Linked DNA regions of Homo sapiens. The protein of the gene in region 2 purifies or fractionates together with the protein of the main gene of each other region. This does not show direct contact. Each region holds a gene or a part of one and is shown on either strand. Other genes may lie near its edges. The genes, in order: ALDH3A1, PRXL2A, SCEL, AKR1C2, DSG3 and ENDOU.

Region 1 (4,833 bases), on a different chromosome or scaffold from region 2:
CTGCCCTCTCTCATTGGGGTGAACAGAGCCCCTGGGCCAGGAAAGGCGGTCTACTGCCAGTTACTGCTACCCCCCGCCCAAGGTGGGGTGCTGAGCTTCGGGGCTGCTGGTCTTGGCCACTGCAACTCACCCACACTTGCAAGAGCGAGGAGGGGCTTGGTCTTTGCTGAGCCTCCCCTCTCTCCTTGCATGGAAGGATCTGTACCCAGTAATCAATGGGGGTGTCCCTGAGACCACGGAGCTGCTCAAGGAGAGGTTCGACCATATCCTGTACACGGGCAGCACGGGGGTGGGGAAGATCATCATGACGGCTGCTGCCAAGCACCTGACCCCTGTCACGCTGGAGCTGGGAGGGAAGAGTCCCTGCTACGTGGACAAGAACTGTGACCTGGACGTGGCCTGCCGGTGAGAGGCACGGGCCTGCTGGCTGCAGCAGTCCTTACTCTGCTTTCCAAGCACACATGACTGCACCTCATGCTGTGGGTCCACTCTGAGTAACACAGACACCCCCTGCCTCATGGAGCAGTGGTCCTTGCAGAAACTTACATGGGGGTAGGGGTGGGGACCACATGCACAGAAGACGTGTGGGGAGTCCCAGAAGGCTTCCTGGAGGGGGAGAGGTCTAGGCTGAGCTCTGTTTGCTGAGTGCGCATCACTGGGGAAGTGGTACTCCAAGCAGAGGCTGCAGAAAAAGCAGCTGTGGGACGTTCAGGACACAAGGAACTGTACTGGGTTCAGCCCTCTGATGGGGCAGGGCAATCTGAGTTCTGGAGAGCAGGCCCAGAGGGGAGAAGGGCCACCGCTGCTCGGGGTCTGGGGCAGAACCCGTATCTGCACCTCCTGACCCTAGCCAGGGCTCTGACCACCTCCATATCCCACATCTGTGGCCCCAGAGATGTAGGGGGGCCCGAGTAGCAGTGACACCTGGCTGTGCAGGACAAGGGCGTGATCAGGGAGCACGGAGGTTGCCCTCAACAGACGTCCTCTAGAAATTCCCCACCAGTCGCCGGTGAACATGATCAGGGCCATTGGGTCTGCTCGGTCCAGTGTCTAGAAGTGAGCAGACCGCTTGGGAGGACTCACTGGTGGCAAGGTCACAGCCGATGGCTTCTGCTGACCAGAGAGCTCAGGGGTCTGCAAAACGAGATGCAACTCCTGGGGAACCTTTTGGATTTAGTCCAGTCTGGGATTCTCACAGACGCATCGCCTGGGGGAAATTCATGAACAGTGGCCAGACCTGCGTGGCCCCTGACTACATCCTCTGTGACCCCTCGATCCAGAACCAAATTGTGGAGAAGCTCAAGAAGTCACTGAAAGTGAGTGTTGACCCCTTGGCAGGGTGGGATGAGAGGCTGTAAGGCACAAGGGGGGCCTGGCCCCTTAACCAACTTCTACAGATTTGGAAACACTGGATTTATTTTCTTCTAATATAAACATAATGCAAGCTAGGCATGGTGGCTCACACCGGTAATCCCAGCACTTTGGGAGGTAGAGAGTGGAGGATCACTTGAGGCCAGAAGTTTGAGACCAGCCTGGGTAACATAGCAAGATCCCATCTTTACAAAATATGTTTTTAAATTAGCCAAGCATGGTGGCATGGTGGTGCATGCCTGTTGTCTCAGCTACTTAGAAGGCTACGGCGAGGCTGGAGCATTGCTTGGGCCCAGGAGTTTGAGGCTGCAGTGAGCTATGATTGCACCACTGCACTCCAGCCTGGGCAACAGAACAAGACCCTGTCTCTAAGAGAAAAAAAAAAGATAATGCACACTCACTATAGATTATTTAGAAAAGATTAAAAAGCATAAAGAAGAAAAAAGCTCCACCCAGAATCCCACCACCCAAAGACAGACACTGCTGGCCTGTGTCTGTGCAGCCTTTGGGCAGGACGAGGCTCTGCGTCCTTACCCGAAGCCCCCACCTCTTCTCCACAGGAGTTCTACGGGGAAGATGCTAAGAAATCCCGGGACTATGGAAGAATCATTAGTGCCCGGCACTTCCAGAGGGTGATGGGCCTGATTGAGGGCCAGAAGGTGGCTTATGGGGGCACCGGGGATGCCGCCACTCGCTACATAGGTGCGTGACCCCTGAAGAGCACAGCCCACCTGCCCAGGCTGCAGGGGTCCCCAGCAAGTTCACAGCAAGTGGGCACAGATGCTTGATAAGCGGACACGACCTCGGGATGGGTATAAATTGCTTTCACCAGGGAGCCTGCGGTAGACTCCAGCAGGCAGGGGCTGAGGACAGCCCCTGCTTCAACCTCAGAATCCCCTCTCCCAGCAAAGGCCCAGAAAGAGGGGCCTCATCTCCCTGCCCCTCTGAAGCAGCAGGAGCAGGGACAGCAGAAGCCACAGGAGCCCCAGGTGTGCCCAGCCGTGAGGGGCCCCCAGTGCCCAGGCTGTGGGTCACCAGATGGGACCCTCTTGGCCCCGAGTTTGTCAAGGAGACAAGAGAATTCTGGCAGGGCATCAGGTGGCCGGCAGGTGCAGTGCCTGCTCCTGGAGACAGATCTCGGGTCCTTCCGTACAGGTTAACCTATAGTTGTCCCCAGTGGTCTGCTCAGATGGCATCCAGGACGCAGGTGCCTAGGGTACCTCTCTGAGGCCTCGTCCCTGCCCTTTTCCAAGCCTGGGCAGGTTTGCCTGGAAAAGGGTTGGAGCAGGGGTCTAGGTGCTTGCACTTTCCATCCGCGTGGGGGTCTCTGCGCCGTCCAACTCTGGCTTGTTTCCTGCCTCAGCCCCCACCATCCTCACGGACGTGGACCCCCAGTCCCCGGTGATGCAAGAGGAGATCTTCGGGCCTGTGCTGCCCATCGTGTGCGTGCGCAGCCTGGAGGAGGCCATCCAGTTCATCAACCAGCGTGAGAAGCCCCTGGCCCTCTACATGTTCTCCAGCAACGACAAGGTGGGTGGTGGGCCTGGGGTGCCCTCTGCCAGGGTCCTGGGGCCCACAGACCTGGGTTCAAACTGCAGCTTCACTGTTCTCTGGCTGTGTGACCTTGGGCAAGTCACTGGATCTTTCTGAGCTCCTTTCACCTCGTCTGTAAGATCAGGACAGCAGCATCACCTGAGGGCACTGAATGAGCGATCCTTGCCCAGGGCCCTGCACACAGGCATGGGGGCGGCTGCTGTCACTCTTTGCTCATGTGGTGCTGACAGCCACGCGGTCTGCAGGAAGAGCAGGAGATGGAGGCTAAGGCTCTGCCTCCACCTGCTCCTGTCCTTGTGGCTCCAGGCTATACCCAGGCAGGGTCGGGTTGGGGGCTGGGGCATCCTGTGGGCAGGAGACTGAGGCCAGTGGCTGGGTCCTGGTGCAGGTGATTAAGAAGATGATTGCAGAGACATCCAGTGGTGGGGTGGCGGCCAACGATGTCATCGTCCACATCACCTTGCACTCTCTGCCCTTCGGGGGCGTGGGTGAGTCTGGGGCTGAGCTTGCTGCCTCCCTCTGGGCCCCAGGGCTGGGCACACTCACCCAGCAAATTCAGGAGGGACCACCTCCTGCAGCCCGGGCGGCAGCCTCCCATTAGCCTCTTCCATTTGGACCTTGGCCTCTGCGTGCCATCCATCAGACACACTTAACCTGGGAGCCTAGAGGTTCCTAGAGGTCACCTGGTGCACCGGCCTATTTCATGGAGGCCTGAGAAAGGTGACCCAGGCCAGAGGTCACACAGCCATTTAGTGGCAGAGCTGGGATTAGACCCTTGCTGGGCACTCCCACAGTGTGGATGCCCTGGGGACACCCTAGACATTGGCCACCCTCAGGAGGCCCAGAAAAGGGCCACAACCTGGGGCTGGGTGCTGAGGGCCATAGGATTTGAGGGAAGGATGGGTGATGGTGGCTGGGGCTCTGCCTCCCTGTCCCTGTGGTTCTGGGATACACCCAACAAGGTGGAGAGGGAAACCTGGGGCGTCCTGGGGGCAGGATGCTGAGCCCTGTGCTTACTTCTCCTCCGCAGGGAACAGCGGCATGGGATCCTACCATGGCAAGAAGAGCTTCGAGACTTTCTCTCACCGCCGCTCTTGCCTGGTGAGGCCTCTGATGAATGATGAAGGCCTGAAGGTCAGATACCCCCCGAGCCCGGCCAAGGTGAGAGGGGGAAGGCGCTGTGGGGGAGACCGGGCTGTGCGGGACCAGGGCCTGGGGATCACTGCCCACTCCGTGTCCCTTTCACAGATGACCCAGCACTGAGGAGGGGTTGCTCCGCCTGGCCTGGCCATACTGTGTCCCATCGGAGTGCGGACCACCCTCACTGGCTCTCCTGGCCCTGGGAGAATCGCTCCTGCAGCCCCAGCCCAGCCCCACTCCTCTGCTGACCTGCTGACCTGTGCACACCCCACTCCCACATGGGCCCAGGCCTCACCATTCCAAGTCTCCACCCCTTTCTAGACCAATAAAGAGACGAATACAATTTTCTAACTCAGCAAATGCAGGCATATGGCACTTCTTTTGTAGCCCTGCACCCACCGACCTGTCCTGCCTGATCCCACTGCCCCACGCAGTGTGGTCACTGATGTACCAGCAAAGGCCTCTCATCAGCTGGTGGGGCCTTGTGCCAGGAGGCCATGCACGGTGTCAGGGTGACACTTGTCTTCCTTTTAGACTTGGGGAGGTCAGCTCCATCTCTGGTGTGTCCAGCCAAGGAGAGCCTGAGGAGGCTGGGCCTTGTCGGCACAGTGGCTCAGATATGGGGAGCTGATGCCGTCTCTTCCCAGACTAGCTTCACTATCTCGGGCAGGGGCCACTTTGTGAGACGATGCAGTAGTCAACACAAAACGCCCTGGTGATGTCATAGTGCTGCTCGTGGGGGCAAAGGACCCGAGGCCAGGCAGCACC
Region 2 (3,865 bases):
CCACCAGCTTTACAGCAAGGACATTTTCTTACGTTCTTTGAATTTTCTTGCATTTCTTTGCATGTGGATTCTCAGTTTATCAAATAAATAAAAAGGAAACCTGCAAATGCTTGTCAAAGGCTGCTGAAACTTCAAGTCCAAAGCCCACAGAGATTAATGACTTTAATCTGTATAGTCCTTTAGAACCATGCTTCTCAAAGTGTGACCCATGGACCAGCAGAACATCAAGATCACCTGGAACCTGTTAGAAATGCAGAGGCTGGCCACGTGTGGTGGCTTACACCTGTAATCTAAACACTTTGGGAGGCCAGGAGTTTGAGACCAGCCTGGGCAATACAGGGAGACCCCCATCCCTACAAAAATAAAATCTGTTGGGTACGGTGGCATCCACCTGTAAGCCCAGTAACTTGGTAGGCTGAGCCAGAACAGCTTGCAGCCAGTTTGCAGCTGCAGTGAGCCATGACTGGGGCCACTAATTACACTCTAGCCTAGGTGACAGAGCAAGACCCTGTACATAAAGAAAAAAAAAAAGCAGAAACTCAGGCCCACCCAGACTGCCCACTGGAATCTTGAGAGCTGCAAATCATTGATTTTCAGCACAAACAATTTTGCTCACCCCGGACACGGAGAGACTTGAACAAACACTAGCATAGTTTCTAGCAGCTCAAGGCCCTGTCTCAGGGATAACCCAGGCCCCTTTGGGTCCCTGCCTGGGGAAGCTCAAGGCTGCCAAAAGAATTTACCATTTGTTTCAGCCAATGCCTGATCATAGGTTTCTAATCTCCCTCGTTTTTCTTGAGATGGAGTCACACTCTGTCACCCAGGCTGAAGTGCAGTGGCGTGATCCCGGCTCACTGCACCCTCCGCCTCCTGGGTTCAAGCGATTCTCCTGCCTCAGCCACCCGAGTAGCTGGGATTACAGGTGCGCGCCACCACAACAGGCTAACTTTTGTATTTTTAGTAGAGACAGGGTTTCACCATGTTGGCCAGGCTGCTCTTGAACTCCTGACCTCAGGTGATGCACCCACCTTGGCCACCCAAAGTGCTGGGATTATAGGCATGAGCCATGGCACCCAGTCCCTCCCTCTTCTTAGAGGACATACTTTATAAAATTTACAATTGTAAATCCTTTCTGTCCCTTTGGGGGATATATGTATCTTCTGCTGCACAGGAATGTGTTTCTCACTTTTTCTGGGAGCCATCCCTTTGTCATATAATTATCAGGAATGATAAGGCCGACTCCTGGTCTCTGTGGGAGGCTAGGATCCTAACTTTGATAAATAAATTTGAGAGTTAGTAGACACAGATAGCCGAATCACATTGACCAATCTCCTTACCAGCTTTTTGTAATTTTGCACTTCCCTAGTTCTATTTGAACCTCCTCCCTCCCCTCTTTAAAATTCCATCACCTCTGCACAGATTGGAGCTAAGCTCAGTTCTATACTGAGGACTCTCTCCTTCTGCAGTAGTTATTGAGTAAAATCTGTCATTATTGCCTTTAGCGTCCAGCTTTTTAAGTCTCCATTTTAATAAGGTCCTTATGTGATGTGCATGTACATTACAGTCTGAGAAGCAGTGTCATAATATTTATCATTCCCTCAGTGACTTATCATAAACAGCCCTGAATGGGAAGGAATCACGCCCATTTTGCCAATGAGTTAGATCTTTGCTTAAGATCACACTGGTAAACTAGAAATTGATTATGCCTCATGACTCAATCCAGTGCTCTTTCCAAAATGACATGCTAATCAGAAAGAGAAGACCACACTGCACGTGAGGACCCAGGGGAAAAAAGTTGGTGAGAGCTCACAAAAAACCAAACATGTTTCTCTTGATGCATCTCCATTGGTGCAATGTCCTCTCAGGTTTTTTTTTTTGATATGGAGTTTCGCTCTTGTTGCCCAAGCTGGAGTGCAGTGGCACGATCTCGGCTCACTGCAACCTCTGCCTCCTGGGTTCAAGCGATTCTCCTGCCTCAGCCTCCCAAGTAGCTGGGATTACAGGCATGTACCACCCCGTCTGTCTAATATTTTGTATTTTTAGTAGAGATGGGGTTTCACCATGCTGGCCAGGCTGGTCTCGAACTCCTGACCTCAAGTGATCCTTCTACCTCGACTTCCCAAAGTGCTAGGATTACAGGCGTGAGCCACCACACCTGACCTCAGGTTCTTCTTTAGTTGCAAGAGAACTGTTTCACCATCAAGTGTCTTAGGTATTAAAGTTCTAAGTTTAGGTACTGAGTTATCCTATCAGTAGCTGGAGTCCCAAGGATGACAGGTACCAACCCTGTGCAAGTACCAAAGGCTATGGCCTCAAATGCTGCAGAAGCCCAGCCCTTTAAGGGCCCATGCATACCCCATGCAACCACTGCTACATGAAGTCAGGTGCAGGCATGGTCTTAGTGGGTCTTAGTCCCGAACCACTCAACCCTAACTCACTCTGCATACTCAATCCCGATGCTCTCCTACTTTCCCAGCTTTACCTCCAACATCAGTATCCATTCTTGCTTTCCTGGGTAAACACTGATTCCTTTCTCCTCCTGGCTGGGCCAGTCCCCTGGGTAAACACTATTTCCTATTTCCACCCCCACCTTTCTACTCCTGGGCCAGTTTGATGCCTTGAGTAGACTCCCTGTGGCCGAGCTCCCTGGTAGGTCTTGATGATGTCACTCAAACTTACACGACAAAATTCAAACAAAAAAGATAAAGTTATATTTCATCATCTCTATGTCCTTTCTTCTGATTTGCCAAATTAGGCTAAAAGACCAATAGAAAAACAGCTACCAATTTTAAACACCAAAGTCATTCCTCTAGGAAAGACAGCAAAATTACTAACGTGAATGACAGGATGAATTTTTCCTGGTCATTTTCAAACCACTTAGATAGCTAGAACCAGAGGAATCCCCCGAGGCACTTTACCCCTCAGCCATGGAGAATGCTGACTTTTTTTACTTTCAGCCAATTATATGGTAAATATAATTATTAGTTTTATCAGAAAATCTTATACATACAGGTGATTTCTGATGCATAATTTTATTAAAGCCAGAGATGGACATTTTTTCTAGAGAAACAGATCTCTGAGGTTAGAATGGAAGATAATGAAACAAGAGATTTCACTTTATAATTTACCTTTGTCAAACTATCCCAGAGCATGTCAATTCTATTATGAAAGTATTACTTTGACATCATATAACCAATTATTAATAGAAAACACACATGCCAAAAAACCTTAAATTTTGTAATCTTCAAGTCAATCATCAACTTTTCTTGAATTTTTGAAGACCCGAAAAGAAAAATAATTTCAAACAACAGCACTCAAACATCATATGCATTTGTAATGAGGCACAGCAATCAATTTTTTTTTTTTTTTTTTTTTAGTTAGAGTCTCAGTCACCCAGGCTGGAATACAGTGGTGTGATCTCAGCTCACCGCAACCTCCACCTCCCAGGTTCAAGTGATTCTCCTGCCTCAGCCTCCCGGGTAGCTGGGACTACAGGTGCCTGCCACCACACCCGGGTGATTTTTGTATTTTTAGTAGAGACGGGGTTTCGCCATGTTGCTCAGGCTGGTCTCGAACTCCCGACCTCAAGTGACTTGCTCACCTTGGCCTCCCAAAGTGCTGGGATTACAGGTGTGAGCCACTGCACCCAGCCTGGCAGTCAATTTTAAGCCTCCTATTTCCCAGGTTTTAGCTTAATAATCCTCATTAGTTTTTCAGATTTTTGTCAGTCTTGTTTTGGGGCTATTTTGCCTTAGTGGGCCTAAACAGAATATTAAAATACATTAATAATCCATACTGAGAGTAGAGTATAAATGGGTTTCTCACTCCTTAGGGACACGAGTGGAAACAATACATCCCATGAACA
Region 3 (4,833 bases), on a different chromosome or scaffold from region 2:
TTTGTAATTTTTAGTAGAGATGGGGTTTCTCCATGTTGGTCAGGCTGGTCTCGAACTCCCGACCTCAGGTGATCCACCTGCCTCGGCCTCTGAAAGTGCTGGGATTACAGGCATGAGCCACTGCGCCCAGCTTCAAAATATAATTTTTTTTTTTTTTTTTGAGATGTAGTCTCGCTGTCTCCCAGGCTGGAGTGCAGTGGCGCGATCTCGGCTCACTGCAAGCTCCGCCCTCCGCGATTCTGCTGCCTCAGCCTCCGAGTTGCTGGGACGAGGTTTCACCGTGTTAGCCAGGATGGTCTCGATCTCCTGACCTCGTGATCCACCCGCCTCGGCCTCCCAAAGTGCTGGGATTACAGGCTTGAGCCACCGCGCCCGGCCTCAAAATACAATTTTTAAAAAACTGTGAGCGAGCTAGGCGCAGGGCCTCACACCTGTAATCCCAGCACTTTGGGAGGCTGAGGCGGGTGGATCACGAGGTCAGGAGCTCAAGACCAGCCTGGCAAAAATGGTGAAACCCCATCTCTACTAAAAATACAAAAATTAGCTGGTCGTGGTGGCATGTGCCTGTACTCCCAACTACTCGGGAGGCTGAGGCAAATAATTGGTTAAACCTGGGAGGCAGAGGTTGCAGTGAGCCGAAATTGCACCACTGCACACTCCAAAAAAAAAGAAAAAGAAAAAAGAAAAAGAAAAGAAACTGATAGAAAACTCTGACAAGTAAAAATATTGAAAGCGTAAGTGAATATTATAGCAGCACTACCTTCAGTTCTAACCTCAATTAGAAAGATGTCCTCACATCACTAGGTCATAATTTTAGTTGGTAGCAATTGCTAAGCAGAAAGATCAAGATATGGATGAAAACTGAAGATATTCAGATGAGAATGATATGCACTACAGAAGAAAAGGCAGACAGGAAAGCTGGATTTAAATTGTTTAAGTAGGTCTATTCTCTGAGCCGCTGCAGAACTCAACTAAGACAAGGAACGAGTCAATCAAGGCAGATTCCAGCTCAATGTAAGGAATAGATGCTACCCAGGAGAGCAAGTCAAAGATGTGTCCCAAAATAGTGAGAATCTTATTGATGGCTTCAGTGGTCCCGAATTATGCCCAAAATGTCGGAGGAAAGATTCTTGCACTAGATAGGAGATGGAACTGACTGACCTAAAATTTCTCTTTCAAACTTAGGAATCTGTTTTTACTAGGCAAAGGGTCAAGGGACATGAAATTTGGGTTCAATGGAAAGATGAATCACATTTTCTAAGACTTTGCAGCTACAGCCAGAATTTTGTTGAAGGAAAAAACAGAATCAGTCATTTTTCTCCAGCAGCACCATGGCAAAGTCAGCCAGTCCATCAACAAACATTGAGCACCTACCCTGTACAGAGCATGGACCCAGGTACAGACAGGGAAATTGAGAAAATTTAAAAGCACTGATGTTTGTAAATGCTTGTTTTCCATTTGCATCACAATTCATAGCCCTGGGGTTTTTTCAACATGCAAACATCTCTTTCACCATCATGTTCTGTCTCATGAAGAATATTTGGTCACCATTGGTCCAACTACTCCTCTGTACCTGCTAATTACATAGGACTCAGCACCAGCAGAATGTGGGAGACCATGCAGAGGAGGTCGGTGGAGGAGGCAAGAACCAAACAAATACAGATGGATGTCTCCAGAAAGGGTCTTTGACTCTGCATTTGGAAGCAAGGCCAGCCCAATCCACAGAGCAGAGGCGGCATCTCCAGATACAGGCCGGTTTCAGGAGCATGGCAGCATGTGGCCCTACATTCATCATTATTTCAGGTTAAGGCATTCCCAGCAGCAGGACTCCATGAAACATGCTACCTCAAGTAGTCTGTCATTTAACATGCGAGCTCTATCATCTAAAACATTTCCTAGAAATTCAAGGCCCTACAGGAATTGAAAACAAGACTCTATATTTGAGAAAGAGATTGCTGGGGGAAAGAGCTGAAGTTTGGGAACAGCAGAATGTAGATGCTGGATCCCCACAAAAAAGAGGAGGAAGCTTTCTAATGCAGTCTTTCATAGTGTATCAGCAAGAGGTAGACACAGTGAGTTCATCCTACCTCTTCTTCTTTACAGGAGTAGTAGCAGAAGTGGATGCTATGGTGTTGGAGGTGTTGGCATTCAATGAACCGCCAGGTTGCCTGTTTAATGACAAGAACAACAATTAATCCCACTCTCAAACTTTTTCATTTCAGCCTACCTTTGAAAAGTCTTAAATTCTACTCATATTCCTGCCTGCTCTCTGTTCATAAAATGTTTCACTTGGGGATAGAAAAACAGCCAAAAATCTTCTTCCTTAGTTGACATATTTTAGAAGTTGTCAGGTTCTCATAGAACTAGCTAAAACTAAAGGAATAGAATAAAGAAGTGATTCATAAAATGACATTAACTGTCGGAAATTCAGACAAATCAATTCTGGCGTGCTACAGATTCACATTTCTTTTATTCCTGTGATTATATTGTGACTAACTAATTATGTTGCGGTTTTTTGCATTAGAAGCATTATTGCTTAATAAAAAATTTTAAATCATACCATCTTAAGTCTCTATCTGGCATTTATTCATATATGCAGAGCCTCAAAAATGGAAGTGACCCAGGCCCATTTCAAGCACTGAGAGGTGTGATCCAGTGTATAAATTACTTTATACATAAATAGGAATTCAAAAATAAAGTAAGTTTATAAATCTGTCTGATTTGGGCTGCTTATAACCATCAGTAGTACATTCCAGGGAAAATGTGTTCCATTTAAATAGATTTTTAGCTCACCCCATGTTTTCCCAATTCAATTTTCTCTGAAGGAGGAGGCATAGATGTGAAGGGTGGGTGGGGAAGGAAGTGAGGTGTGGAGGAAGGGTTAATTATTGTGAGAGTAGAGGGAAGAAAAGTCCTGTAGGGGAAAAAATAAGGAGTCTAGATTTTAATAAAGAAGAAGAAAGAAAGGATGATCTAAGCTTTGGTGTTTGGATAGAGTAATGATTGGCAATCTTTTTTTTCTGCAAAAGTCCAGATAGTCACATTTGAACCTTTACAGACCATTTTGGTATTGTCTTCTACTACTCAACTCTGCCAGAGCAATAGGGGCATGGCTGTATTCCAATAAAATTGGCCTGAGGTGGTTTTCCCTGGTTTTTCTTGAATACATAAAAAGAAATATACTACAATTAGAAAGAATACATACAACTTTGTTACTTCCAGTGATCTAAACATGGACATGCTCCTGGTAAGAGAGAAAGAAAGCAAAGTTTGAACAATGAAGAATGAACATTTGCATCTATTTGGAATTATTCCTGAATTTAGAGTTTTAAAAGTTAGACACTGGTGAGAGAAAGAAATAGAAAGCATCATATTTTAATAAATTTCATAAGATGATTTCATGATTTTGTCTCTTGTACTAGATTCCAAAGAATTTTTTTTCTTCTGAAAATTTAGTATCTTTTAAGCCCAATATTTTTATTTGTTGGGTTCAGTAATTTTCCTTAACAATAATAATGTAAAATTTGCATTTGCACCTATTTCATAATTTTGCCACCAGGACAACTTAAACAGAAACATAAATGTGGTAAGAATGGTGATTTGGAGCTACAAGTGCTCTTGATTCTTAAGCTAAACAACAAGGTTTTATTCTAGCCATGAACAGGAGTAATGATAGAGACTAAGAATTTACAGAAAGATATCAAGTAGGATTGAAGAATTGCAAGTACATAGGTAACACTTAGAAAAATATTATACTTGAGCCTTTCCCATAGTTAGTAGATACTGGTACCTATTGGTTAGTTGGTTATCCAAGGTATTGGCCTTATATGTTTTAGCAGCATCATTTCTGTCTGAGATCCTTTATAAAGAAACAAGACAAAAGTCTGGATAAATATTTAAATTATCAAACTCCTTTCAGACCATTTTCATGCTAGAATAGCTTAACAACATAGCCTTTCTCTAGTAAAGAGAACTATTTTTCAAGTGTTACATTTTAGAAAATTTTTAAATAAAAAGAAACCACTTATGACAAAATCTACTTATGAGGTTGTTTTAATATAGTTTGAAATTTTATTTTATTTTTTGAGATGGAGTCTTGCTCTGTTGCCCAGGCGGGAGTGCAGTAGTGTGATCTCAGCTCACTGCAACCTCTGCCCGCAGGGTTCAAGCTATTCTACTGCCTCAGCCTCCTGAGCAGCTGGAACTACAGGCACGCACCCCTACGCCCAGTTAATTGTTGTATTTTTAGTAGAGAAGAGGTTTCACCATGTTGGCCACACTGGTCTCGAACTCCTAACCTCAGGTAACCCATCCGCCTCCACCTCCTAAAGTGCTGAGATTACACGTGTGAGCCAAGGCACCCAGCCTGAAATTTTAAGTGTTATGCCTTTTGCCTGTTTGTCTTTCTGACTCATTGAGCATTTAACTCTATTTTCATTTTCATTATTTTCTAATGATATATCTTGTCAATGACAGTACTTCCTATGTCAGTAAAAGGCATCAATGAACTACTTGGCTTTTTTTTTAAGGTTTGTGGCATAAACAATATTATGTGTTTGCAAAACACATTTTCTTTTCTTTCTGAGCAATCAGGGAGACCACATTTTCCAACCTTCATTGCAATTAAGTTGGGGCCATGTGATTGAGCTCTAGACTAAAGAGTGTGGGCAGATACGTTATCTGCCACTTCCAGACCCATTGTAAAACCTCCTGGTGGTCTTCCTTGTTATTTATTCCCCCTTCTACTATGGCTTTGGTATGCATGGCAGCATAAATATGGCGGCATTAAAATATAGAAAGAACTTAGGTCCCTGAGTCACTTCATGGACTCCA
Region 4 (5,364 bases), about 75 Mb from region 2:
TTATCTTTGGTAAGTTTTACAACTCATATTAGTGGTGTAATTATTTCATCTATTCAGCCCAATGGGCAAGACTAAGTATCTTTGTGGTTTGGAAACTGAGGAGGCAAACACAGTTTTTAATATGTTAACTTGGGCTGGATGCAATTTAAAACAATGTAGGTATCACTCTTTTATACTCACTGAGCTCTCTTATATCGCTTTCTCTCTCTCTCTGATCAAAATGACAATGGAAACTCAGAATCATAACAAATGTAAGAAACTCACCCAGGAGGTAACAGATAACATAATATGATTAAGATTATCTCTCATTCTATAGTCTATGTTAAACCATATTGATCTGTGCTGAGCTCGAAGAGTAAAGGCACTTTGAAGGCATGAATTGGAACACTGCAAAGATGAGAAAGCCATCTTCACTTCCTGCCTTTGATATTAGTTTTAATACATGAGTAAGTGTGAATAAATCGAAATAAATAAGCACAATTCACCCTCAACTATGGATCCAGTCATAGAACTGCCACCTCCACACAATCACAATAAATACATGTGCACACAAGCTCATCATAGGCACAGTACCTTTGAAGTGTAGAATATGTCTTCTCTCTTCACACTGCCATCTGCAATCTTGCTTCGGATGGCCAGTCCAACCTGCTCCTCATTATTGTAAACATGTGCAGAATCAATATGGTGGAACCCGGCTTCTATTGCCAATTTGACGGCCTCTAGAGCTTTACTTTTAGGAACCTGGGGGAGCAACCAAACGTAATATTTTCTGACTAATGTGCCTGAGAGTTAGTTCGGGCACAAGCAGCAACGTTCACAAAAATCAGCTTTTCCTCCTTTCTTGGATGAGCTCTGTATGTAGAATCATAAGCCCATCCCAGTCTGACTGGGTCTTTCCCATTTAGTAATAAAGGTTGGGCATAGCAGGAACTTCTGCAGTCCCAGAAAAATCACTGCTTGACCACTAGCTTGGAAGTGTCCCCAAAACAATTTCACTTTCAGTGATTTTTTGGAAAAATCAACAGGACGCAACTATAGTTACAGACATAATCTTAATTATTTTTAGTATGGTGAAATTAACACAAGGAAATAGCCACATGGAAGGAATTATGAAGGAATGCAGTGTAAGCTCCTGTGATTCCTCTCCCACCATGTTGCACAGAGCGCACTGACTTTATCCAGCATCATATTTTGTCAATGTATGTGAACTGTTGTCTACAAGAGATGCCCTCTACATACTCCATTGCTAAGATTTTGTCTGGGACTGGATACATTGACTCACTCTGCCTAGCAGACACAAATCTTCCAGTCTCCAAAAGCAAAGCAGGTGCACAGAAACCCCACAGTTTACACAAACAGTTACGTAGAGCCACCATTCTTATCAGTTAGGAAACAGGGAGAACTCCACTTTCTCAGATGCCAGCAGGTTTATATTGGAAATAGGCACATCTATGGATAGCAGTCTATTATGTTAGATCTTTTCTACCCAGGTTTTGGCCATTCTGTCTGCATAACAGAACCAAATACTAGGAGTAAAGATGTATACTCTAAGGATATTGATTTGTGTATGTAAGAAATAGGCTGCAGGGAGTAAGTGATTAGCAAAATGGGGTTCAGCTCCATAAATTCAAGGCAACTCTGTCAGGAAACATATGATTGCAGTAAAATTTACAATTATTGACTTATGTAACAAATTTGGATACAGATTTGACAGTATATCTTTTAAATGACAAAAACAGAAACAAAGCAAACTATCTTCCCACCTTGAAAGTATTTCAGAGGCTTTTTCCTGTGAAATTACAAGGAACTAGATACCGGGTCTCACAGCCCTCTCCTCATACCATCTTTGATCTTCTCTTCGCTGTGCAAGCAATCAAAGGCTTACCAAGGCCGGAGCTTCAGTGGTATCCTCATCTTTACTTCCTCTCCATGCCAATTTATATTACAAAATAAACCACTCCTGTCAATGGTCTTCAAAATGTCCCTTTGTAACTCCTTATGTCTTATAGATGAGAAATGTGAGACTCAAATTTTATATAACTAGTTCCTATTCACACACATTGTATTCCCAAGACAGTCTTGAGATACAAGTTTTCTTCCAGTGTAGAAATAGCATTTAGCTATTTCTAAATCTAGAAAATAAAATATATTCCATTAATTTTCTTGTCAGAGAAACAAGAAATTTTTCTGTTACAATATTTTGATACAAATCTGACCCATATTAACAAAGACAAAGAATTTAAACTTTCCTTGTTTGGTTCTAGTTTTTTTTTTTTTTTCTTAAAATGAGGATATTTTATTATTTCAGGTAATTTTCCCAGAGGTGAGAATAGTACATGGGAAATTCTCTTTAGGCCAGGTCTAGTATTACAGTGTGGTGCTCAAGGCCGCCCATCAGAACAGTGATACTCTCCCAACAGATTTCATCCACCCCGTCTCCACTAACTTTTGCCATAAAAATTCCTCTGAATTGTATCTTCTTGGAAGAAGTAAATATCTGTTCGACTATACAAAGAAACAGAGAAACCACTCCCATTGCAATCAATCTTCAAGAGAGGGAGCAGGCAAGCCGTGTTCTTTCTGCTGAGTTTTATAGACTCTGACAAGCTGTGAAATAAACATAAACAGAAGACAAAACAGTGCCACAAATAAGCAGTAGATGACCCTGTGACAAGACGGCATTGCAGAACAAAGACTGACGTTTAAAGGGGAGTCATGCAGAGTAACATAGGAACACAAGCCTGACAACCTGGTCAGCTTCCACTTACTCTAGCTCCTTTGAACTCTCAACACTAAAAATATTATTGTTACCTCTGCAGGCGCATAGGTGCCAAATCCCAGGACAGGCATGAAGTGACCATCATTCAGCTTCACACACTGGTATTTCGAATCCATTTCTGTCACTGGCCTGGTTAGCAAATGTTTCTTCCTCCCTCACAGGCTATAAGAGCAATGAGCTGGCAACGCCCCTGAGCACACTGTCTGCTGGTTAACCAATGGCATGTGAGAGGAGGGACAGAGGCAGTCTTACACAAGCTGTGATAAAAATTGCATCCAGTTCAACCGTTTCTTACCTAAGAAAATTCATAAGTAAATTATTATGTGGTCATGATACACTCATTAATTTCCTCTGAAGTATTTTTGCTATTCCAGATCTCTATATATGAGACATAAATTACTCAAAGAGATTTGTAGAACAAATTGTGACTTTACATAAGAATATAGAAACCTCTAGCGGCACAGCTCTTTTTTGTGTGTGCCATGATGATGAGTTCCTTCTGCATCTTGCAGCATTTGAAATGACTAATTTTCATTTTTCTCTCTCTCACACACACAATTTAAAGGAATGACTAATGAGCATTTCTTTAAAATATTGCCCTCAATTAAAAATTAAAGTTAAAATTTTTAAATGCATGACTTTTTTTCATCAGCAAATTTATTGTTCCTTTCTTATTAGCCTTGTAAGAGAAACATCCCTTCCTGATCAAGGTGCAGTCCTGATAAAGTTGTAATCCTGATGTGGGTGTAAATAAAAAAGAAAATATGATGTGGTTTTATTGGAAGATTTCTTATTAACAGCTTTTGGTCTTTGGATATAATTTGTAACATGCAAACAGTGCCTTATTGGTCTTTTCCAGTCAGTTTTATAAGTTACTACCAAAAAGTAACAAGCCAAAAACCTGATAACTATTAGATATACTTTATAATATTGCTAAACATTATTCATAAAGAAAAACTGGTAACTAATGACATATAAACTGGTGAATAATCCTCACATGGGATAATTTTTACTTTATTCTCCCTTTGGAGGTCAGGTTAAAACAAGATTGTAATTTGCATGATCCATGATTCACATCTTGGAGTAGTCACAACTTGCAGTGCCCTGATTGCTTCTATTTGCTTTCTCATAAAACAAACAGAAATTGAAAAATAGGTAAATTGTTATCATTGACATAAATGTAATATTATAAAGATATTGAAATTTTTCACAGAGTAATTTCAACAAGATGGTGGATTCTAAGATTCCCATATAACTCATGGAAACATCAGAAAATACCTAAAATTGACTGAAATAAACTTATTTATTTCTGGAGTGGCTCAGTAGAGATTCAGGGTGACTATACACATACAGATGTTATAGGCAAAAGGCCAGGGGAAGAGACATGCAATAGTCCATCTAAGCTATTGAGGAGAAACTGGGATGCAAAATTTCATAATAGTAAGCAATTCAAAAGCCATTGGTTATTTGGGGAAATATAAAAGGGCAAACACAGTCCACATAGGTACATGTTCAGAAACAAACTAAGAAGGACTTGAGTTTTACGTAGGGCTGATGCCTTGACTGAGAACCTGCCGCACATATAAGTTAATGACTGTCATGACATAGAACAAATCTATATACAGTAAAAAAGATGTTTATTTTTTCAAATGCCCAGTTAAATAAAATAACAAGGCATACAGGCCAGGCACGGTGGTTCACACCTGTAATCCCAGCACTTTGGGAGGCCAAGGTGAGCAGATCACGAGGTTAGGAGATGGAAACCATCCTGGCCAACATGGTGAAACCCCGTCTCTACTAAAATCCAAAAAAAAATAGATGGACGTGGTGGTGAGCACCTGTAGTCCCAGCTACTCGGTAGGCTAAAGCAGAGGAATCGCTTGAACCCAGGAGGCAGAGGTTGCAGTGAGCCGAGATGGCACCACTGCACTCCATTCTGGTGACAGAGCAAGACTCCAGCTCAAAAAAATAAAATGACAAGGCATACAAAGAAACAAGAAATCACAGTCCATTATGAGGAAGAAATAAATCAGTAGAAATCATTCCTGAAGAATCACAGGCATTAGAATTAGTAGAGAAGCATTTAAACAGCTGTCTTAAATATGCTAAAATTGCTAATGAAAAATATGGATTAAGAACTACAGAAAATCTGAAAAAATAAGAAAATCACAATATAGTATTAATACAGAAATTATAAAAAGAAAAGGAAACAAATTGGAGCTAAAAAATATACCTGAATGAAAAACTCACCAGAGAGTGTTTCAATAGCAAATTTGAGCAGGATGAAGATATAATCAATACACATAGGGATAGCACACTTGAAATTCCTGAGTCTAAGGACATGAAGCAAGAATAAAGAAATGTGAACAGGTCCTAAGGGACTTATGGGACACCTTCAAGCCAACCAGTATGATAGTATTGGATTCCCAGAAGGGGAAGTGCAAACCCATGGTAGTAGAGAAATTATTTGGAGAATAAAATCATCAAAATTTTTCAAATTGGTTAAAGACAAAAATCTACAAATTCAAGTAACTTAAAGAACTGCATATAGCATAAAGTCAAAGAGACTCAGACCTATATGTGTT
Region 5 (4,833 bases), on a different chromosome or scaffold from region 2:
TGGCATCTGCGCCTTCATTATCATAGATCAACAAGCAGTCATTTGCTTCCTGGCCATCGTCTTCCTCCGCACAGGCAAATGCTTTCTAAGACAGAGAAAAAGTGGGAAAAAATGAATTTTAAGAAAGAGTCAGTTGAACAATATAATACTGTTTGTAGAACTCATTTGGATTATGAATGCCCAAACTAGGTAATCCATAGAAATAAAGGACACTGTCTATTAACAATCTTGTTCAAAACATTATCTGGTGTTTGGACAACAGTATGGTTGACATTACCTCAAAATTGAGCTAGAACCTTTGTCTAGATTCTACAAATCTTGTGGGAGCCTGACATGTGACTGTAACACACATCCCACCTAGAAATATCCCAAGAGTCCTCATCTCAAACAACCCCTCCCTTTCTCCCCTGCCCTGCAGTCTTTCTTCAAACACAATATCACTCTTTGTCTGCTTGGATACTAGGTCAGACCTTGGCACTTACCAGTATTGATACCAAAACTCAATGTGAGATCCATTCTAACCGTGCCTCTCTGCCCACTAATCTTTGGTTATCAAATGAGAGGCAAGCATCCTACTTTTCAAAGTCTTCTTTGTTTTCATAACTATGTTCCTTTTCTGTTCTATGCTTCCTGACATGTCATTCCTCCCATCACTGATCTTCCATCCTATTCTTTTTGCCTCCCCTTTTTTGGGGGTCATTAATTCAGTGGTTCTTCAACTTTTTTAGACAGATAATGTGAATACTCTACCCCTCTCTCAGGAAAATATACACACAGGTATTTGGATATCCTTTATGATACAGGAAATACAAAATGAACTGCTTTGTATTCTTAAAGAAGATGCTAGAAATTCTCACATAAAAGAGATTTGCCCTCAATTGTTTGTTCAGTTGGAGGAATGAGATACTACTTGCTATATGCTCTCATGTTGTGGTTATCTACTCATTCTTCTTTTGTTATTAATTTGTTTATTTTAGAGACGAGGTCTCACTCTGTCACCCAGGCTGGAGTGCAGTGGTGCCATCATAGCTCACTGCAGCTTCTACCTCCTGGGTGCAAGCAATCCTCCCACCTCAGCCTCCCGAGTAGCTGGGATGGCAGGCATGTACCACTGTGCCTGGCTCCCATTCTTCTTTTGATCAGTGACCCGATTTTGACAGCTACCTTAGGTTATCTGTATTATTTTGGCAAAAAACAAACAAACCATTTTTTTCTTGCATTTTAACAAGCTGTAAATAAAAACTGCAAAACTGAAGTATATAATCAAATAAAAAGTTCTCTAATGTAAATAAGATAATCAAGCCACAAAGTTTTTCACCAAATTACCTGAGAAAAGTAGGAGTCCAGAAAATTCATGCTTATCGCCCCATCAGCGTAGTCCTTATTGGTTCCTCCAGTGGAATGCCTTGTTCTCATGGTTCCAGACTGCCCTGAGGAACAGATGCCAACTCCAGTGGCTGCTCCGAATCCTGAAGCAGCTCCTGACACTGTCCCTGTTGCAAAGCCTGCAGCACCTCCAGATTCAGTGGCTGCTCCAAGCTTAGTGGTCATTTCCATTCCTGAAGTGCCTTCCACCGCTGTGCCTCTGGCATACGTATTTGTACAAACTTCTAAAAACAAGGGAGAACATTCTGTAATATCTTATGCTGTTGTTTGTTGCATTTTTATAAAATGGGTCTTGGGTGTCTATAAGCAGTCACCATGCAAACAAGTAAGTGGGAGAAAATACAATTATATGACTAGAGGTGATAACATCCCACAATGTGTTATGTGAGAGTCACAAAGGAGGGCATATAAACGGGTGAAAAAGCTCTAAAAATATACTAATTTTAAAAGTGTACAAAGAAATAAGATTTTCAGTGACAACAGCCAGAAATAGAAAAGACAGGATATTTAGTACACAGTTATGGGAAGCTTCTAATGCAATGCTTGTTTGTTTTCACGAAAAAACATTATAGTTAAGCAGTCCTATGAGCTCAGTATGGAAACCAAAGAGGAAACATACGTAATGTAATCATGCAAATTAGCATGTCTTGGTACCTAAAGAGAATTTAACAAATCATGACTATTCAGCCTGTTACCTTGACATTATGCTTTCATGGAAAGTTACTTTTTTCTAGATAATTCTTTACATAGCTCTTGCTATGTAATTCTAATGGGAAAAGCAGGTGAGGAGTGGAGCATCTGATAAAGGAAGACAGTTACATATTTGGGGAAATCTCATGCGGATTTTGCAGGATGGACACTTGAAAACAATCTATGGAATTAAGCAAAACTTTAATATTAGGCATTAAGTATTATTGTTCTTTTAGTTCACTGAGTAGTTGTGGCACTCAGATAATATTAATGCAATAGCCACTTGGTAAAACCAAAGAAATAAACAAATTCACCTGTATGACCTGTATGACAACATAAGTGATCATGTCCTAGTATGACTGAATGCAGGAATTAGTAATTGAACTGAAATCAGGATACTGTTAGTTCTGGGGAAGAAAGAAGGGGAACAGGATCAAGGATGTGCACATGAGACTTTAACTGAAAATATGACTAATGTTTGGAAAAGACAAAGTTGGGTGGTGGATACATAGATGTTCGTTATATTTTCCCTTACATTTTTCTATATGTGTGAAGTCTTTCCTAATTAAAAAATTAGTAATTGATTGCCTGAGAACTACACGTCACTAAAGTTTGGAAAAAGTATAACAGATCTTTAGATATTGACAATGGTGGCATCAATGGATAAATTAACTTATTGAAGCCAGACATGTCAGGGAATTGACTAATATAAAAATATTAAAACAGCTTTTCTCCATTTCAGTGGTAACAGCTCCTGACATGTGCACACAGATGCAAATTATTAAGAAGATAGTTTGAACACTTCTTATTTTTTAATATTTACCACTTAACTCACCATTGCTTTCAAACATTTTATGTCCACTTACCAGAACTTTCCATGAAATCGGCTCCATTGGCTGTTACAGGAGGCACACAAATATTTGTGATTTCCTGCAAACCATGTGAAAAATAAATTCATTTAAAAGTGAACCAGATTTCAGAGCAATATAGTGACATGTGGCCCTTTGCAAATTTGTAAATGATAACATTACAAGAAGTGCAAATTCTTTCAGCGATAACCATTTCTGTGATTTGACATCTGAAGAGCTAAAATCCTAAAAGCCTCCATCTATTCAGCACTGACTCTGAAACTGAAGGTCAAGAAATCTCTTTGCCTCTTTTCCTATCTCAATGTAAATCAAACATTTTCTCTATGTAATTGAAATACATAATTTATGAACTGGATGCTTACCTTGTCTTCAGGATGGGCTCCTTCAATTCCCCACTGATGAATTGTTCCTTCTGAGCCATCAGGAACTGGGATAAAACCACCTGTCACTCCCCCAGTAGAACCTGCCCCACAGTCACAGGTCAACAGCAGAAGGGGGGCCACTAGTGAAAAACAAAACAAAACATCAGAACACTTGACTAATTTAGGAACTATTTAATGTGATAATTTTTCAGAAATGTTACAAAGAAAATACAGTATCTTAAATATTTGTAGAAAATTCCTAATGAAAACCAAAATTAGTTTCTACAAATGAAACTTGGTACAGTAAGCACACTAGAATTTCATGTGATTATGAAACTGAAGGAGACAGATCAGATCATTTCTTGTTGTTATTTTTTTGGTATATTTTCTTAAAATAGGCACTGATGTATGAATGAAAGTGGCTGTTTGGCTCCTCAATCCTTTTCCTTAATACATTTTTATGATTATTGCATTTATTTGCACATGTTGGGGCTATGTATATTGTGTCAGGTGAATACACAGATAAATATATGACCAGAATGGTCCAGATTTTAGGTGGGCACGATGGTGTTTTGGTAATCTAGTCTCTAATTATCTCTCAGTAAACAGTAATTAACCAGAAAACTCCCTCAGTAACTAGGGTGATAGCCTAATCAATGGCTGTCAATGCATTCTTAATTGTAATTTAAGAATTTCTTAGTTGTGGCTTAAGCTTGGAGGACTCTTCTGGCAGCGTAAATATCTTTCTGTGCACATCCTTGGCAATAAAGATTAATGTCATTCTCATGTGAACTGACCAAGAGTGAAATACTTATTCTTGAAAGCAGGTGTTTCCCACACTTTGTTGTCAGTGGCCCCACTGCCACCTCTGCCCTGCCAAGGCCACCTGAATCCTAATGTTTCAACTCTCTTCACTTAGAGGCAGCTTAGTGAGGGGTTTAAGCATGCAGCCTCCGAAGTCAGATTCTAGGGTTTAAATTTCGGCTGTACCACTTAACAGCTATGTAATGTTGGGCATGTAATATCATCCTTCTTTGCTCAGTTAACTCATCCATAAAATGGGGGAATAAATAGTATCTACATCATAGGTTGTTATGAGGATTGAATTAATATAGGTAAAGGCCCAACTCCTTAATACTATTTTTTTAGGGTTTAAGTTTCAACATATGAATTTTTTTGGGGGGACACACACATTCAGACCATAACAATTAATCTCCCAATCCTCTCCAGGGGCCACTGTAATGCACTGCACACTTGTCCTTTATTTTCCAGTCTCATGTCACAGCTCGAAATCTGACCTTCATCATCTCTCTTGAACTTTTACAATGACCTCTTAAGTGTTCTTTCCTTTCTAATTTACACTGTTATACTGTACACACTGTTGCCAGGGTTGTCTTTCTAAAATACAAATATGATCATGTTAGTCTTTTATTCAAATGCTTTTAGCAGCTCCTCTTTCTCATAGGATAAAGTACAAACACCACAGCATGTGTATGTAGCCCTTTCAAATTAGTCCCAATGCATTC
Region 6 (5,392 bases), on a different chromosome or scaffold from region 2:
GTTTGCAGAAGCAAGCTTTTGGTCGCAAGGGACATAAGACAAGACATTTTGAAGGAACAGTGGAAACCCACTATCCACTCTGGGCTTTAAGGGTGATAACAGAGTCTTTGTTCGATTTGAGGTTCCTGAGGTTTGGATTTCACGAACGCTGGGTTCAGAGGTCATACTGTGGGTTACAGAGAATGTCAAGATCAGAGTCAGAGTTACCATCAGCATCAGAATTTGTATCAGTGAGGAAACTGAAACCTAATTTGGACCAGGGTTGGGGTTAGTTAGGTTAAGAACTACAGTTAGGATTTGGGCTTGAGTTAAATTAGTTGATAAATTAACAATTTTGTATTGATATTTGGGTAAGGAATAGGAATAGACTTAAGATGACATTCGGGGTTGAGGAATGTGTCAGGATGAGAAAAAGATGAATAATCCCTGTTTTGTTTGGGGGCTTGGTTCTGGTTATGATTCAATACAGGTGTAGTATCTTAATTTAAGCCTGGAGTGGGTTAGAGCTTAAATATTAGAGGTTGGGTTTGGTTACCAGTCCCTAGTATTGGATTCTGGGATTAAGGTTGATACTTTGTCTAATGAGGGACAGCATAGCAGAGAGGTCAAGAACCTAGACTCTGGCGCCAAACTGCTTGAGGCTGGAATTCTGGTTCTACTGCTTTCTAGCTATGTGATCTTGGGCAAGTTATTTGAACTTCTGTGCGTTGGTTTTCGTATCTGTAAAAGTGGGATGATAATGGAGCCTATCTCATAGAATATTTGTAAGAATTAAATGAGTTAATATATGTAAAGCACTTAGGACAGCAAGTGACACATAGTAGTACCATAGAAGTATTTGTTAGGTGAATAAACGGTGGCAATATTTCATGCCCATCTTCCAAGTGACAAGTGTTCAGACTGGCTGGAGCAGTCTTCCCTGTGTTGTGGCCCCGTCGACACACTTAATCTAGCTGACACTCTCCCAGGGTTTCAACAGGGCCATCCCTTGGGCTGGGTTGTCAGCACATCTGTGTTGCTGGTTTCCTGGCTGACTTCATCACTACAGGTCTGTATTCTTTACATCAGAGAGGCATTGGGTCAAGGTTAACCCGGGTCCTCAGACAACTTCACATTGTCAGGCCTCCAAGGTGGGCAGGAAGGCAGGTTTCCAGTCCCTAAAAGAGACCAGGCCCAAGGCCACTTGTTCCTTCAAGCCGGCAGGAACTCCTCTTGAATGTTAAATGATGCTCCCTTGGAGCCTGAATGCAAAGACCTTAAGGAGAAATTTTCAGCCCATCAGCTCCCTGCTCAGTCAGCCTGGCAGTACACCCAGAATCCAAAGGGAGAGAATTCAGGCAAATCAGGGCAATGTTTTTAATGGGCCAAATCAGCAGAGTCCAGGGAAAGAATTCACTTCATTCCAGCAGCTGGCACCAGTTGAGAAGGGTTGCAAGCGAGCAGTCAGCTGGACGTGCAGGAGAGCACCCCCGCCGGCCCAAGCTGAGTGGGCTTTTTCATCTCTGCTCAAGAACTTTGTCTCCAGCAAGAGCCCCATGCCAGCACTTTCTCACATTTCTCTGTGCACTTAGTCTGCTTCAAGGTGACCTTGGGATTTGACAGTGGAGTGCAGGGGTGGGAGGAACTTTTCCTCATAGGCACTTTGCTGTGACATTCTGGGGACACTCTGATGAGTAACTAGTCACCCTAACAACTCACTCCAGCATCCCCACACTGCACCATTAACACCAACACTCTGAGTAAGCCTTGCTCCCCAAGCCAGGTGCCTGAATCACTGCTGTAGTAACCTGTGCCTCTTGTTCCTCTGCCTCACCTCTCTGACTCTCTGCCTTTCTTCATCTGAGCCTTTCCTCTCTCGGGTTCAGATTCTCCCTCCATTCCCCCAAGAAATGCTCAATTTCTCTGCACTTTCTAAGACTTCAATATGCCAGAACAGCCACTCCCTATCCATACTGGCCATCAAGGAAGCTTGGTCCCAAGCCTGGGTGGACACAGTGTCCCTGTACACTGGTGCTCAGCCCCTCTGATGACTGGGACATCCTACACATCTGTACCGTTAGAAGGCCCCAGATGCTGTTTCCATGGAGACCTAGTCAACCAAGAAGCCTCACCCCTTGGACTAGCTTCCTGCCTCCATTCACAACCAAAAAAATCAACCAAGGTTCTCCACAGACATCCAGCTCATAAAGGAGGACCTGAGGCTGTCAGTGATTCCCCATGTGATTCATATTCTTGCCTCTCAGTTCTGAGATGTTGGGATAGTATCAACAAGTGCAGAGCCTCTTCCCTGCCACCTTAGGAAGCCTCATACACTTGACCTCACTTCCCCATCGATCCCACAGCCAAAGCAGATACTGCCCTCCGACCTAGCAGCAAGAGCTCCACCTGCACTTCTAAAGCCACTGCTACCTCTGCCCCCCAGGGACCAAATATCCAGAGTTGCTCTCCTTCCCTAAGGCTGGAATATGCCAAGCCCGCTGGCCACCCCTACACATTAAGCCCCCAAGTTCCACCTTCCTCCCAACCAACAGGGCTGAGGCTGGTGGCTCCCAGGCCCACCCTCATGCTCTCCCACTGCCTCTCCACCCACTAGGGCCCAGGCAGAGCTGGTTTCTGGTAAGATGCACTATCTCATCCATGGTTGGGAGGCACAACTTCCTCTTCCAGGGGTTTTCCACTTAGAAATCCCATAAGGGTCTCCTTTCCACAACCCAGTTGGAAATGACCCCAAGCGGAAGTTTCTCCCAAGAAAATTTATAGTCATAATCATAGCGAATTTCCAGTTCACTGAGATCTCACTTTGCACCAGGTGCTTCTCATACATTATTTCATTTAATCCTTTCCACAGTCCTACACAGGAGCAACCCAGTGGAAGGATTCTTTCTCCTGTGGGCAGAGGAGGATTCTCCCCACACTCCTCAGCTCAGCCCCTCCCTTGGCACTCCTTCCCACCCACCCACTAGCTACCAATTAACCCATCAGCACCAGCATTTTGCACAGTTACTAAACAGGAACATGGTCCTGTTCCTCTGCCAGTCCCATCCCCTGGACCTCTCATAACTGTGGGCCAGGTCCCTTCTGTATTCTTCAATTCTCCTAACACTGCAACAGAGATCCATTCCTCTGACCCCTGTACAGCCCCAGATAGGACGAGGCCCACCTCCTGGTCAAAGGTCCTTTCAGTTTCCTCCTAAGCCTGCCCACCTCCTAAGGCTCTACCCAAAGTAACATCACACCCTAAACAACCTCACCTGTCACCAGGCAGTGGAAGGAGTGACCAAGGGCAGCCAGGCCACTCAGACCCCATGGACACCAGCCCTAGCTTTATTCCTTACAGTGGCCCCAGACAACAAAATCTTGGGGAGATCAAAAGTCAGGCTGGACTAAGGGATATTTGGGGCTGATCCTCCAAGGTGTCAAGAAGGGAATTCCATGAAATCAGACCATCAGCCCTGCAACTCTCTCCACATAGTCCAGTCCATTCCGGGACCAACGCCTGCACCCTCAGACAAGGACAACCCAAAAGTGCTCTGCGGCTTTAGGACAGAGCTCACCCTCCCTTGTCCCACGGCCCTGCCCTCTACCAAGTTCTCCAACTCTCTGCTTCTTTAGGCAAGATCCCGCCCCACCAGCAATCCCATGCCCGCCAGATAGTGACTTACCAGCCCAGGCCAGGCCACACAGCACGGCCAATACCAGGGAGATGCAGGCCCTCATGGTGCCCAGTTGGAGGCCAAAAAGGGAGTGGCTGTTGGACTTTCACTAGAGTCAGATGAATGTCACAGCTCTCAGACGAGCCTTATTCCTCAAGCTGATCCTTTTAAAGACACCAGGACTTGTGGAGCTGGTGTCTCCAGATCCTTTCAGGAAGAAAAAGGGGAGGGAGGGACCCTAGATGGATAGGAGGTGGGGCCCTACAGCTGTTTGAAGCCTGAGGGAAGGTGACTAAGAAGGTAGGTAATGCCAGATGTTGAGAACAGGTAATGCTAGCTGTTTGCAGCTTAAAAAATAGGTCATGCAGGCAGGCACACCAAGATGGGTCCAGTTTGGAGGGTTCTTTGTCCAAATTAGGGACACCCATGGGCTGATCTTTGGGTGATCCCCACCAAACAGACACCTACTTCCAAGTCTCAGACCTGACTTTCCAAGGGGCCACAGGTTGGATTCATCTTCAAATTCCTGGAGCTTAGCATGACACTGGCACACAGTAAGGTGATTGGTCCAAATTTGACAAACAGTAAGTGCCCAAGCAAGGGTTGGGGTCATTGGACAGAGAGATAGAGGATGTGTCGGTCAGAACCAGTGCTATTCTTATGACCACCAAGCCCAGCATAGCTAAATCAGCCACATGTCGAGCGCATGGCTAAATCACTCTAAAATATTATGCAAATGACTCTTACTGAGTCAGCCTCTGGGGTTTAAACGTTTCAGATTCCTTATGAGGCAGGGGAGGGGCAAGAGGCCTCTTAAAGGCAGCCGAAGGCCCACTCTTCTTCCCCTGGGAGCCCAGGGTTTCACTCCCTTCACCCCAACTTACACTCCTCTCCTCAGGAACTCCTCCCCAGTGAGGTTCTTTTGTTTCCAAGTCCAAAAGAAGGGGAGCAGCTCCCCGTGACTGTCCAGTTTTCCCCGATAATAAAGGTAAAATCTGCCAAGTATGATGCCCTTGCCAGAAAGAGCACTGCATGGGGATTCTCAACCCTCTCAGGAAAGAAAACTATCATATAAAAAGGCAAAATTGGTGAACAGTGGAGGCCACTCTATCAGTGATTTTTTTCTGGAGGTTGGGAGTGGAGCACGTCTTCATCCAGTGTGCTTTAACAGGAGAAGTTTCTTCCTCTCGCTGGTCTTCAGCTTTCTCATCTGAAATGATGGGGTTGGATCTGACAATCCCTTCCAGGTTCTCAGACTTTAATCTCGAGTTTTCCTGCCCATGCGCCAGGTTGAACAGTTGCTGGTGGGTTAAAGAGAATCCCCCAGCCTGTTGCTGTGTAGAGAGGAGTCCAAACATAGGGACTCAGGGGTAGAGAGAAGGACAAGCCTAGGGCAAGCAAACTTTGCAAGGGGCTCACACAGGAAGTGCAATGTATGTATATATTTTGAGATGGAATCTCTCTCTCTGTCGCCCAGGCTGGAGTGCAGCAGTGTGATCTCGGCTCACTGCAACCTCCATCTCCCCAGCTCAAGCAATTCTCATGCCTCAGCCTCCCGAGTAGCTGGGATTATAGGCATGCACCACCACACCTGGCTAATTTTTGTATTTTTAGTAGAGACCATGTTGGCCAACCTGATCTCAAACTCTTGACCTCAGGTGATCTGCCCACCTTGGCCTCCCAAAGTGCTGGGATTACAGGTGTGAGCCACTGCATCCAGCCCGGAAGCACAACTAAAG

What was found.
Region 1: the proteins of PRXL2A (region 2) and ALDH3A1 purify together in Homo sapiens (affinity purification with mass spectrometry; one large-scale study listed by BioGRID and IntAct). This does not show direct contact.
Region 3: the proteins of PRXL2A (region 2) and SCEL purify together in Homo sapiens (affinity purification with mass spectrometry; one large-scale study listed by BioGRID and IntAct). This does not show direct contact.
Region 4: the proteins of PRXL2A (region 2) and AKR1C2 purify together in Homo sapiens (affinity purification with mass spectrometry; one large-scale study listed by BioGRID and IntAct). This does not show direct contact.
Region 5: the proteins of PRXL2A (region 2) and DSG3 purify together in Homo sapiens (affinity purification with mass spectrometry; one large-scale study listed by BioGRID and IntAct). This does not show direct contact.
Region 6: the proteins of PRXL2A (region 2) and ENDOU purify together in Homo sapiens (affinity purification with mass spectrometry; one large-scale study listed by BioGRID and IntAct). This does not show direct contact.

What each region holds. Positions count from the first base shown.
Region 1 is NC_000017.11:19,737,576-19,742,408, reverse strand, and holds the end of ALDH3A1 (aldehyde dehydrogenase, dimeric NADP-preferring), read left to right. Parts: intron 1-196; coding exon 197-405; intron 406-1,198; coding exon 1,199-1,316; intron 1,317-1,931; coding exon 1,932-2,073; intron 2,074-2,734; coding exon 2,735-2,901; intron 2,902-3,313; coding exon 3,314-3,413; intron 3,414-3,955; coding exon 3,956-4,086; intron 4,087-4,173; coding exon 4,174-4,188; 3' UTR 4,189-4,420; downstream 4,421-4,833. UniProt on the Homo sapiens protein: ALDHs play a major role in the detoxification of alcohol-derived acetaldehyde. They are involved in the metabolism of corticosteroids, biogenic amines, neurotransmitters, and lipid peroxidation.
Region 2 is NC_000010.11:80,432,146-80,436,010, reverse strand, and holds part of PRXL2A (peroxiredoxin-like 2A isoform 1 precursor), read right to left. Parts: 3' UTR 1-3,865. UniProt on the Homo sapiens protein: Involved in redox regulation of the cell. Acts as an antioxidant. Inhibits TNFSF11-induced NFKB1 and JUN activation and osteoclast differentiation. May affect bone resorption and help to maintain bone mass.
Region 3 is NC_000013.11:77,566,706-77,571,538, reverse strand, and holds part of SCEL (sciellin), read right to left. Parts: intron 3,860-4,833; coding exon 3,791-3,859; intron 3,245-3,790; coding exon 3,206-3,244; intron 2,169-3,205; coding exon 2,088-2,168; intron 1-2,087. UniProt on the Homo sapiens protein: May function in the assembly or regulation of proteins in the cornified envelope. The LIM domain may be involved in homotypic or heterotypic associations and may function to localize sciellin to the cornified envelope.
Region 4 is NC_000010.11:5,000,941-5,006,304, forward strand, and holds the start of AKR1C2 (aldo-keto reductase family 1 member C2), read right to left. Parts: upstream 2,918-5,364; 5' UTR 2,896-2,917; coding exon 2,812-2,895; intron 742-2,811; coding exon 574-741; intron 1-573. UniProt on the Homo sapiens protein: Cytosolic aldo-keto reductase that catalyzes the NADH and NADPH-dependent reduction of ketosteroids to hydroxysteroids.
Region 5 is NC_000018.10:31,470,898-31,475,730, reverse strand, and holds part of DSG3 (desmoglein-3 preproprotein), read right to left. Parts: intron 3,448-4,833; coding exon 3,308-3,447; intron 3,007-3,307; coding exon 2,943-3,006; intron 1,611-2,942; coding exon 1,327-1,610; intron 86-1,326; coding exon 1-85. UniProt on the Homo sapiens protein: A component of desmosome cell-cell junctions which are required for positive regulation of cellular adhesion. Required for adherens and desmosome junction assembly in response to mechanical force in keratinocytes.
Region 6 is NC_000012.12:47,721,697-47,727,088, forward strand, and holds the start of ENDOU (uridylate-specific endoribonuclease isoform 1 precursor), read right to left. Parts: upstream 3,795-5,392; 5' UTR 3,718-3,794; coding exon 3,663-3,717; intron 1-3,662. UniProt on the Homo sapiens protein: Endoribonuclease that cleaves single-stranded RNAs at 5' of uridylates and releases a product with a 2',3'-cyclic phosphate at the 3'-end. The UU and GU sites are more efficiently cleaved than CU and AU sites. Targets mRNAs to regulate their expression.